3 separate regions of the Homo sapiens genome follow, and all the other regions are linked to region 2. Evidence: fine-mapped expression QTL. A gene starts in region 2. Each other region holds a variant in brackets. All regions are shown on one strand. Distances are between the middles of the regions.

Region 1 (4,358 bases), 110 kb after region 2:
GGCTGTGGTATCGGCAGTTTAGGGTATGGAGCAAGTAATATTGTGTGTTTTCTTTTTTTCTTTCTTTCCTTCCATGTAGCATCTGCATACCAAAGGACTTATTCTATGAAATACTTTAAAAATTCCTCATCAGCAAAGGACAATTCAATAAATACATCCAAACATGATCATCGTTGGAGCCGGAGGTGGCAGGAGTCGAGGCGCTGATCCCTAAAATGGCGAACATGTGTTTTCATCATTTCAGCCAAAGTCCTAACTTCCTGTGCCTTTCCTATCACCTCGAGAAGTAATTATCAGTTGGTTTGGATTTTTGGACCACCGTTCAGTCATTTTGGGTTGCCGTGCTCCCAAAACATTTTAAATGAAAGTATTGGCATTCAAAAAGACAGCAGACAAAATGAAAGAAAATGAGAGCAGAAAGTAAGCATTTCCAGCCTATCTAATTTCTTTAGTTTTCTATTTGCCTCCAGTGCAGTCCATTTCCTAATGTATACCAGCCTACTGTACTATTTAAAATGCTCAATTTCAGCACCGATGGCCATGTAAATAAGATGATTTAATGTTGATTTTAATCCTGTATATAAAATAAAAAGTCACAATGAGTTTGGGCATATTTAATGATGATTATGGAGCCTTAGAGGTCTTTAATCATTGGTTCGGCTGCTTTTATGTAGTTTAGGCTGGAAATGGTTTCACTTGCTCTTTGACTGTCAGCAAGACTGAAGATGGCTTTTCCTGGACAGCTAGAAAACACAAAATCTTGTAGGTCATTGCACCTATCTCAGCCATAGGTGCAGTTTGCTTCTACATGATGCTAAAGGCTGCGAATGGGATCCTGATGGAACTAAGGACTCCAATGTCGAACTCTTCTTTGCTGCATTCCTTTTTCTTCACTTACAAGAAAGGCCTGAATGGAGGACTTTTCTGTAACCAGGAACATTTTTTAGGGGTCAAAGTGCTAATAATTAACTCAACCAGGTCTACTTTTTAATGGCTTTCATAACACTAACTCATAAGGTTACCGATCAATGCATTTCATACGGATATAGACCTAGGGCTCTGGAGGGTGGGGGATTGTTAAAACACATGCAAAAAAAAAAAAAAAAAAAAAAAAAGAAATTTTGTATATATAACCATTTTAATCTTTTATAAAGTTTTGAATGTTCATGTATGAATGCTGCAGCTGTGAAGCATACATAAATAAATGAAGTAAGCCATACTGATTTAATTTATTGGATGTTATTTTCCCTAAGACCTGAAAATGAACATAGTATGCTAGTTATTTTTCAGTGTTAGCCTTTTACTTTCCTCACACAATTTGGAATCATATAATATAGGTACTTTGTCCCTGATTAAATAATGTGACGGATAGAATGCATCAAGTGTTTATTATGAAAAGAGTGGAAAAGTATATAGCTTTTAGCAAAAGGTGTTTGCCCATTCTAAGAAATGAGCGAATATATAGAAATAGTGTGGGCATTTCTTCCTGTTAGGTGGAGTGTATGTGTTGACATTTCTCCCCATCTCTTCCCACTCTGTTTTCTCCCCATTATTTGAATAAAGTGACTGCTGAAGATGACTTTGAATCCTTATCCACTTAATTTAATGTTTAAAGAAAAACCTGTAATGGAAAGTAAGACTCCTTCCCTAATTTCAGTTTAGAGCAACTTGAAGAAGAGTAGACAAAAAATAAAATGCACATAGAAAAAGAGAAAAAGGGCACAAAGGGATTGGCCCAATATTGATT[CT/C]TTTTTTATAAAACCTCCTTTGGCTTAGAAGGAATGACTCTAGCTACAATAATACACAGTATGTTTAAGCAGGTTCCCTTGGTTGTTGCATTAAATGTAATCCACCTTTAGGTATTTTAGAGCACAGAACAACACTGTGTTGATCTAGTAGGTTTCTATTTTTCCTTTCTCTTTACAATGCACATAATACTTTCCTGTATTTATATCATAACGTGTATAGTGTAAAATGTGAATGACTTTTTTTGTGAATGAAAATCTAAAATCTTTGTAACTTTTTATATCTGCTTTTGTTTCACCAAAGAAACCTAAAATCCTTCTTTTACTACACTGTGACTGGTCTGGTTATTTACAACTTTAAATCCTTATGTGCACCAACATTTTTACATTCTGGTTCCATCATGGAGAGCAAGCTTCTAACCTGGATGAAATGATTTTGTGGCAAGCAAAGAAATGATTATATATTTACCCGTAAAAGTTGCGATAATAATTCTGATAATGTTTTCATCTGAATACTATGTATTAATTTCAAATATGGAAACTATGCAATGGGAAAAGTGATAGCTCACATCACAGAAATCTTCCTATGAACCAAGGCAAGTATTTTACATGTAATATATCATAACAAGCTTATGAAACAGGGGTCATCATTACTGACTGATAAGGGATCGGGCATAGAGGGCTCGTTATTTGTCCAAAATCATGCAGTTAGTGTGTAGCAGAAGCAGGTAATCCCTACAGCCCACACAGAATTTCCAAGAAAAATGTAAAATATTATATCCCTGATTGTTATGCATTTAAGAGGTTATCACCCATTCAGATATCCATCCGTTCCTTCAGTTTTCATTCATTCATTATTTAAGGATTTAATGTGTGCCAGGCACCGTAATAGGCTCTGAAGATTCACCAGTGGATGCGGTAGACAGGTTTCTGCCCACATAAAGTTTTTATACTGGCTGCATCCCATGGAAATTATCATAGAACCCATTCTATTCAGTATCTTTATTGATAATCTGGAAGAACCAATACATTTTATGCTCCAAAGTTATATCAAAGATATAAAGGTCAAAGGTGAGCTGAAAATTATTTTAAGGTTCTTTCTAGAAATGTCAAAAATATACAGGGAGTTTGGCATGAATAAGTGTGGAAGAGAAGAGATTATTTTCCTTTCTGAGCTTGTCCTTTTAGTGTGCACTCTGTCATATCTTTTACATAGAATTTAAATATGATCCAAGGGAATATATAAGAATTTATAATAATTGTGCATATATAGCCTTCTGAGATTATTGGTGGATCTAGGTACAAATAACAGAATCTGTGGGATGAACAGAATACTGGGACAGAGTGAGACATTAAAAAAGACTTACACTAGTCAAAGGCAGCAAGAAGTGGTTCTTTGTCCATTTTTAAAGGTTAAGTGGCATATCAGAGGGAAGAATGTGCCCCTGCGTTGGGGGCTATTTAAGAAGAGGTGGTCTTCCAGGGTAGCTGTATTACTAAAGAGGTAAGAGAGATTGTATAGGGAGAGGTGCATCATTTTAATGTGATGGTAAGTAGACCTTTGCTGATCTTAAGTAAATTTTCAATAAAGTACCAAGAGTAGGAACTGAATTAGCCACAAGCTATTTGCCCGGAAATCATATATCATGTACAATAAACTCACAGAGTTTGCAAATAAACAGAAAAAAATAAAGTAGTTGTAAAAAAGTTCCGGGTTAATTTTGTGCATGACTATTTCCCATGAAAAGGATCTATGAGAGAATATATTCTAGATAAGGGAAAAAGATGTTATTATCAAGTGGCTAAAGACTCAGTGATGAATACAACATTTGTAAAGTGTTTCCTTTTATGTTTCTTAATATTAGAAATGCAGTGAAATTGTTTCTGAAAAAAAAAAGGTTGGCAGTGATATGTTAGCACTGATATTGGTGCATCTTTCTTTTTACTGTATTGCAACTTGCATTTTCTCTAAACAAATCAGAATTCATCCAAATGATTCTTTTCTGAAACAAGTCTAAACAGAACATTTATAAAGGTCCTTGAGTGAGTCATTCAAGATTGTATAATCTTTTCCCATTATTACTCATTTCTGTATGTTTAGATCCCAGCTGGACAAGAAAGAGCAAATGCCAAAATAGAACAAGAATGGTTTTGTTGAGGTGTTTACAGAATAAGCAAAGCCTGGGTTTTAATTGGAATTTAATTCAGAGTTCTGTCTGAGTCCATCAAATGATCCCTGTTGAAGATTAAAAGTTTACTGCCTTAGGCAGTAAGTCTTAAATTATTTTTGATAGTATTTATTTAAAAATTTTAAAAACTATGTACCTCTCACATTTTAAGTTGTCAACAAAATTTTTTTTCATCATAAAGTTATACAACTATAGAGGATGTAATTTTTGACCTATTTTAAATATTGTCATTCTAAAATAAGCATGTAATATCACTTTCAGGATATATTCAGTGGAATCTAAATATCATAGTGGTTTGACCTCTTACATCATTCTTTTAAAAGTAGTCTTTTATTAAGAGTCAAAAATTTTATATTTTTGTTTTCGTTGGACTAATTCTAAAATTTAAGTTCCTCTTACGGAATGTTATCAAAAATTATATAGT
Region 2 (4,000 bases):
AAGAATAAATAATTCACTGCAAAAACACATTGATTTCCAAATGATGTAACTGACAGTTATATTACTGCAGAGGGCTGATAAATAACAAAAGAAATGAAAGATGCACATGGTGAGAACTGAAATTATCCTGACAAGTCTTCTACCTGTTTATCACTTAAAATCAATGACCATGCTGAATGCCTACAAATTACAAAATATAAAAGAAATCTTATAAATGCGCATGTACAGGAGTCTAAGTTACTAAAAGTTTTAAAGCATAAGTTTAAACCAAACTAATCAAAGAAGTTGAGAGGAAAAATTGGCTTTCATCTTTAATCACTACTGTTTTGAGGTCCTATGTTTAATATAATTTTCTAAGTAGAGGCTTCAGAGAGAAGAGTTGTGAGGATACTTTCATATTTGTGTAGAAGGAAAAGTTTGCCATCCATTCTAGTATCCCTAGTGTTATACTGATGTGCACCTTGGATTTATTTTGTTCCTATTGTATAAACTCATACTTGACTTCAAAGAAAAGGAAAATCCAAAGTCCCTCTTTTCTAAGGGGACAGAAATCCTTTGTGTCAACTGTTTGACCCTTTTCTCTGTAAGGTCCTATTGGAAATCTTTTGTAACACAATGCAGGGGACTCTTCCATGTGTTGATGCTGTTTACACAGTGGGGTGGGCCTGACTGAAGAAAAAAAATCGCATATACGCATGAAAGATTATGGTCTTATTTCCGGAAAGCATGAAAGGTGATTGATACTTCCAAGAAGTCCCTGTTACTCAGGAAAATTATCAAATATTCTACTCAGAGATACTTGGAAAGACTGAAGGAAAGGAAGAACGAAGAAAGCAGAATCTAGACTTATGTGGGGAGAGATTTGTGGCAGAGGAAAAGTATTCTCTTTGAATCCGACAAGGGATTTGCCTGGGGGAATTTCCTGTCCAGCCTTTTATTACCAGGGTCTTTTGAAGCCGGGCTCCCCATTGGGCAGTTCCCTGGGAGTGCAGTGGGGAATTCTTACACTTTCCCTCTAGGTCCCCGAAGGATCTCGTTTTCTCAGTGTCTCTTTCAGGTTGGCAGGAGCCTTGAGCCTGACACTTCCCTTTGATGGGACAGGCAAGCTCTGTGGGCGCGTAAACACGCTGTAACCAAGTTCTTTGCTGATTTTACAGTTTTGTGTGCTCCCGAGAAGAAGTGATCGTACTCAATTGTCTATTGCTGGCCTGCCCCCTAAGAGCCTGGGGGCTCCTTTCCCCTAACCCAGAACTAGCTGCACGGGGGGCGGGGAAATGGGGGTGGGGAAGGAGTGGGAGGGCAGTGGTTTCCGCGAGCAGAGCGATGTTACTGAGTGAGTCCCTGAATGGGGAGCGCTGCTGTCCCCAAGCCGATTGGTACTTCTTGTCAGGAAGAAACGCCAAGAGGTGGGAGTGCCTGGGGAGGGAGGCAGGCGGTCCCTACCGCAGGCGCGGGGAGCTGCCTTTCCGCCCCTCCGCCTGCTTTCCAAGCCTGGACTCTTAGGAGTGGCTGAAGCTGCGGAGCGCTTTTGGAGCCTGTGAATGAACCCTCCTCCTCTCCCTCCTCCTTCTTCTCGCTGAGTCTCCTCCTCGGCTCTGACGGTACAGTGATATAATGATGATGGGTGTCACAACCCGCATTTGAACTTGCAGGCGAGCTGCCCCGAGCCTTTCTGGGGAAGAACTCCAGGCGTGCGGACGCAACAGCCGAGAACATTAGGTGTTGTGGACAGGAGCTGGGACCAAGATCTTCGGCCAGCCCCGCATCCTCCCGCATCTTCCAGCACCGTCCCGCACCCTCCGCATCCTTCCCCGGGCCACCACGCTTCCTATGTGACCCGCCTGGGCAACGCCGAACCCAGTCGCGCAGCGCTGCAGTGAATTTTCCCCCCAAACTGCAATAAGCCGCCTTCCAAGGTAATCACGTTTCTTTTGTTCCCCCCTTAAAAAACAAAAACAAAAAACTTATAGAAAAAAACCCGCGAGCTTAGAAAAAAGAAGCAATTGGTAGAAGGCTTTAATTAAGGCAAAGAGCTGTAAGGCGAAGTTAAGAAAATGTAGGCACTTAAAAAATGCAGGTAACTTTCATAAGGGCTTTTGGGGAGAGGCATACAGAGGGACCTTGGTGTTGAAAAAGATTCAGACAAAAGAAACCCAGGGTGGGGTGGGGGGTAAAATGACTAACGGAATTGGGGGAAGGGAGGGAATAAATTGTAAAGAAATCATAGAAAAGTGGTGGGTTCTTGAGCTGGAGAGAAGAGAGGGACCTTTGGCACTTTGATTTTTTTGTTGTTGTTGTTCTTAACACGCTCGAGGCAAAAGTTTGAATGGGGACTACCAAGACTTGCCACAGACAAGTCCCCGAAGCCGCCTTGGTGCAGGCCACCTGGTTTCCCAGCCCCTGGTGTGTGGTCAGTGCCTGGTGTTCCTGGAAAGCCACTCCCGGGCAGCTCCTGACAGTGCGACCCGGCGCCCAAGCAGCCTGGGACCTTGCGCGGACCTGACCCCTTCAGACCGCAGGCAGTCTGGGAGGAGGTCCGGCCGGGGGAGGTGCAGGATCCCCGCCGTGTCTCTTTGACGACTTGGGGACTGTCACGGTTCTCTCCCGGCGCCCCTGGGTTCTTTTGTCCTGCACGCGGTGCGAAGGGGCCAGCAGGGAAGGAGCAGAGGATGGGGGGTGGGGTTGTTGGAGCCCCGCGGAGGTCTGGGAGGCCCCTGGGCGGGAAAAGCCTGTTCTGAATCGGCAGGGATGTGCAACAATTTTTCTCACCCTGAAGAGTGAAATAGGGTCTGTCGCTCCCATCTCAACAAGCAAACCGGCACCCAGAGCGCACTGCAGACAAAGGTGGCTCGGGGACCCGAATCAGGGGCCTCTGGGTCAGTCCTCTCGCCCAGACTACAGGAGTCCTCCGTTTCCTTACATATTCCCCACCCTCTCCTAGTTCTCCGCTCTAGTTGAGCAACTTTACTGGCAGGTCTAGCGGCAGCGGCGCGCGCGTGTGCCGGGAGCCCCGGGGGACGTCCTCGGCTGGAGCGCCCCACCGTCCTGCAGAGGCGTGGGCGCTGTAGGGCGACATCCCTGGTGCGTGCAGACCTAGGGCATCCGGGTTGTTCTGGCCCGCGGTCTGTGTCACTGGGCGTGGAGCGGTCTGGGTGTTAGGCAGAGGAGAGCGGGGTAGAAAAATAGTGTCATAGCCTAAACTATTTGCTCTCCAATCCAACTGCGTCTCGGCAAGTCCTGCATGTCCCTGGGAGATGCTGCGGGAAGGGGGAGAAATCTACACGGCGCCTGGAGAGTTGTCCTGCCGCGCGCACACCCGCGGCAGAGTCTCTCTGGGTCGCGTTCCTCATCTTTGTGTCTCCCTCTGTCTCCATCTTCTCTGCCTCCCTTCCCCTCTCCCAGCCTCTGTTCTCTCTCTCTAGCTTCTGCGTCCCCTCCCCCACAGCTGACAAATGAATGGCTAGTGTGAAATCCCTGCCTTTCCCGTGCTCCAAGGCAGCAGGGAGGGAGGAGCGAGGGAGGCGGTGCGCTCCTTCGGATCTGCCCCCAGTTCAGCTCACAAGACTTGCAGAACCTAGATGTCTAGGAATTGGGAGTTTTGCGGCGGGTGTGGGCGCCCCCTGATGGAGAAGTCCCGCACAGGCGGAGAAAAACAAGCCCCCCAGACCAAGCGAGCATCTTTCACAACCTTGTGTTCAAGGATGGAAGGCCCTAGTTTTCCCTTAAGTCATTCATTTTGCACTCCACAATCTGCGGCGTACATCTAGGAGTTTGGAGGACCCTGAAAAAAGGTCTTGGTCTGTGCAAAGTGCAGAGATGCCTTCTCGCGAGTCGGCTGGAACGCACGCGGCGCCCTGGGTCCAGTTCGCCGCTTAGTGGACGAACGCACATGGCCAGGGTGGAGCCAGGTTTCGGAGGTCTAGACGCGCCACCCTGGGCGTCTTTAAGAAAGATAATACACATACCGTGCTCTCAAAACCCATGACCACTTGAACCCAAC
Region 3 (4,358 bases), 140 kb before region 2:
ATAGTATTCCATGGTGTATATGTACATATTTTCTTTTTCCAGTCTATCATTGATGAGCATTTAGGTTGATTCCATGTCTTTGCTATTGTGAATAGTGCTGCAATGAACATATGCATGCATGTATCTTTATAATAGAATTATTCTATTTCTTTAGATATATATACAGTAATGGGATTGCTGGGTCCGATGGTATTTCCGGTTCTAGGTCTTTAAGGAGTCACCACACTGTTTTCCACAGTGGTTGAGCGAATTTACACTCCCACTAACAGTGTAAAAGCATTCCTTTTTCTTTGCATCCTCACCAGCATCTGTTGTTTTTTGACTTTTTAATAGCCATTCTGACTAGCATGAGATGGTATCTCATATGTTAGTTGGCTGCACTTATGTCTTCTTTTGAGAAGTATCTGCTCATGTCCTTTGCCCAGTTTTTAATGGGCTTGTTTGTTTCTTCCCTGTAAATGTGTTTAAGTTCCTTGTAGACTCTGGATATTAGACCTTTGTCAAATGGATAGATAGCAAAAATTTTCACCCATTCTGTAGGTTTTCTGCTAACTCCAACGATAGTTTCTTTTGCTGTGCAAAAGCTCTTTAGTTTAAGTAGACCCCGTTTGTCAATTTTTGCTTTTGTTGCAATTGCTTTTGGAGTCTTTGTCATGAAATCTTTGTCTGTTGCTATGTCCTGAATTGTATTGCCTACATTTTCTTCTAGGATTTTTATAGTTTTTGGGTTTTACATTTAAGTGCCTAGTTTACTTAAGAGTTTTTCAATACCTAGTTTATTGAGAGTTTGTAACATGATGTCCCTAATTTTTTAACCATGATTAAAAGAAATTTTAAAATCCTTCTAACCAAGCTTGAGCCATATAGCATTTAATATTCTTTATGGGAAAATTTGTTTGGGATCTATATATTCTACTAACATGACATTTTCCAGGCTTTGAACTACAATATGGTTTATTTCTTGAAGTTTTGCTTTTACAAGTGTAATTTTGACATTGCATAATGTGAGTTTTTTGTAATGTACAGTTACATTTCTTGTATTCTTATAGCAACCAAGTCGTGCCAGAAAGCAGCTTGTAATCTATTTCTTAAAGATTGTTAAGAGAAGTAGAAAATCTAAAGAAGCATATTAAGCATCCCTTGACAATTTGACACTAGCAAACTGCCTTCCTCAATTGCTTGTCCCCATTCCCAGAGGATTGCTAAGGAATTCTTATTGCTGTTCCGTGAATATATATTTCACAATGAACAATACGCTGTTTTTAAAAAAATTGCTTTTTTACACCTAATGGCATACACCTGCACGTTAATCAGAGATAAAAGCTCATCATGAATATTGAATTGCTAGAAAATGCTCTTCAGGGGAAATATTTCTATCTATATTTTTAAACTTGTTTGTTTTGCTTATTGAAGTGTAATTAACATAAAGTAAAATTCATGCTTCTTAGGTGTATAGTTCTGTGAATTTTGACAAATTTATATAGTCAGGCTGGGAACATTTCCATCATCCTAAGTTTCCTTATAATTATTTGTAGTCAATCCTCTTTCCCCACACCCAGCCCTGGCAACTGCTGACCTGATTTCTATCTCAAGAGTCTTGCCTTTTCCAGAATGCTGTATAAAATCCTACAGTATATAGCCATCTTGAGTCTGGCTTCTTTCATGTAGCATAATGCCTTGAGATTTTTCCATGTAGAAATATATCAGTATGTATCATTGCTTTTTTATGAGTAGTAGTCCATGTGGGGATGTACCACAGTTTGTTCATCTATTCATTCACCTTATAAAATGGTTCACTAGTAATAATTTCATTATTATTAAATTTAGCTGTTATTTTATGTATTCTTATACAAAAAGGTAACTATATGGGGTGACAGTTATGTTAATTAGCTTGATTGTTGTGGTTATTTCATATTGTATATGTATATAAAATTTTCAAATTGTATACCATAAATATATACAATTATTTGTCAATCAGTTATCAATAAAGCTGAAAAATATATGATGAAAAAGTT[T/G]AATTTATTTCAGGAAGGACTAAATATACCATGATGATTAAAGGAGTAAAACCTCAATTAGTGCAAAGAAGTTTAATAAAATTCAGCACTCAGACATAACAAAATGTCTTTGCAAGCTAGGATTTATGAGAATCTTCTCATGTATACAACACACAAACACAAGAAATAGAAACACTTCTTCTCAACAAGATGCCCATGATCACTACTTCCATTCCATACTGTATTGGAGGTCCTAGCCAGTGCATGCATAGCACAAAAAGAAATAAAATATATAAGTCTTGAAAAGAAAGAAACTTTTCAATATTTCTATTAGTCCGTTTTCATGCTGCTGATAAAGACATGCCTGAGATTGGGAAGAAAAAGAGGTTTAATTGGACTTACAGGTCCACATGGCTGGGAGGCCTCAGAATCATGGCGGGAGGCAAAAGGCACTTCTTACATGGCAGCAGCAAGAGAAAATGAGGAAGAAGCAAAAGCGGAAACCCCTGATAAACCCATCAGATCTTGTGAGACTTATTAACTATCAGGAGAATAGCATGGGAAAGACTGGCCCCCATGATTCAATTACCTCTCCCTGGGTCCCTCCCACAACACGTGGGAATTCAGGGAGATACAATTCAAGTTGAGATTTGGATGGGGACACAGCCAAACCATATCAATATTCATAGTGCATATTATTGACTACATAGAAAATTCAAAAGAATCTATAGGTAAATACTTTGAATTAATAAGAATATTTAGCAAAGTGGCTTGATACATGACAAAAATGCAAAAATTACTGCATTTCTATACATCAGCATCAGAGTTAGAAAATACTTTCAAAATATACAAGGATTAAATAATAAAAAGATGGAGCAAATTGTAAAATTTAAAGGACAGGAATATTCAGTATCTTAAAGATTTTTATTCTTTCTCCATTATTTGTAGTTTCACTTATTTGTCATCAAAATTCTAACAAGATTTTGGCAAGCTGTTTCTGAAATTTACATAGAAGAACAAAAGGCTAAGAATAACCAAAGCAATTCTGAAGAAGAATAAAGTGGGGAAACTTTATCTACCAGAATCATGACTTATTATATAGGAATAATAGTAAAGCAAGATATTAGCACTGGGATAGACAACAGATAAAGGAAAGAATGGAGCAAGATACTCATGCATATATACAAATTTGGCATATGGCAAAAGTAACAATAAAATTCACTAGAGAAGGAATCAACTATATAATAAAAAATATTATGACAATTGAGTTTTTTATTTTTAATTTTTTAAATTTTTCTTTCAGAGGTAGGGTCTCATTATGTTGCCCAGACTGGACTCCAACAACTCCTAGCCTCAAGCAATTCTCCCACTTAAGCCTCCTTATTAGCTGGGACTGCAGACATGTGCCACTGCACCCAGCAAGTTGATTTTTTATTTAAAAAATAATGAAATTTGATCCCCTCCTCACACCTACATGAAAACAAATTTCAAATGAATTTAAAATGTGAATATAAAAGGCAATAGTTTAACACTTTTGGAAGAAAACACAGGAGAATATTTTTAACGTCTTAAGAGAACATATTCTTAAATAAGGCTGAAAGAGTGCAACCCCACAAAAGAAAAATGTATAAATTTGACCACATTAAAATAAGAAGTGTTGGTACATCAAAGAACATTATAAAGAAAATGACAACCCATGCAGTGAGAGAAAATATTTGTAACCCATATAGCTGACAAAGAATTTGTATTCTCTAAGTCGATTAAATAAAAGCCAAGAAAACAATAGTAAAATGGGCCAGAGACTTAATCAGACAATCCCAAAAGGAAAAGCACAAATAGTTTTGAAACATATAAAAATATGGCCGACATCATTACTTCTCCATAAAACACTTATTAATTTTAAAGGGTACAAGAGAAACTTTTCAGTAGAAAAGCATGGTAACCTTGTGATCAAAATCAACATCATCAGTAATGGTACAAATTGAAACCATACACCACCTTGATCAAATGCAATAGGAACACAGCAGCACTTCTGTAATAGTCCTACCAAAGGTGCACAACTTTAATCAAAGCATGAGGAAATCTCAAACAAACTCAAATTAAGTACATTCCATTAAATTAACTGGCCAATTATCATCAGAAGTACCTCAAGAAATGACTGAGGAACTAAGGAAGAAGCCTAAAGTGATGTAACTGCTAAAGTATTGTGTGATTTGGGACATTTTGAGGTAAAGGACATTAGTGGAAACTGAATGGAGGTTGAAAATTAGATGGCAGCAATGTATCGATGTTAATTTTCTGTTTTGACGGTTGTATTGTGCTTAAGTAGGAGAATGTTTAGAAGGACATTTATGGTCACCAGAT

The links. PIP is the estimated chance that this variant, and not a neighbour inherited with it, causes the effect. A credible set is the group of variants that fine-mapping cannot tell apart.
Region 1: its variant is the best candidate, but not a certain one, in a credible set for the expression of VCAN in whole blood (INTERVAL, PIP 0.84).
Region 3: its variant is the best candidate, but not a certain one, in a credible set for the expression of VCAN in whole blood (TOPMed, PIP 0.79).

Annotation. Positions count from the first base shown.
Region 1 is chr5:83,580,228-83,584,585 of GRCh38, forward strand. It overlaps VCAN (versican), which reads left to right. Exons shown (of 15, transcript NM_004385.5): 15 at 80-2,075. The coding sequence ends at 207. Among named protein-coding and RNA genes, the nearest start is that of VCAN-AS1, 20 kb to the left of the region's middle. The variant CT/C (reference allele first, on the strand shown) is at 1,748.
Region 2 is chr5:83,470,108-83,474,107 of GRCh38, forward strand. It overlaps VCAN (versican), which reads left to right and starts at 1,637. Exons shown (of 15, transcript NM_004385.5): 1 at 1,637-1,916. RefSeq lists an enhancer at 2,066-2,938.
Region 3 is chr5:83,325,660-83,330,017 of GRCh38, forward strand. The region is part of intron 7 of XRCC4 (X-ray repair cross complementing 4); the gene reads left to right. Among named protein-coding and RNA genes, the nearest start is that of VCAN, 140 kb to the right of the region's middle. The variant T/G (reference allele first, on the strand shown) is at 2,016.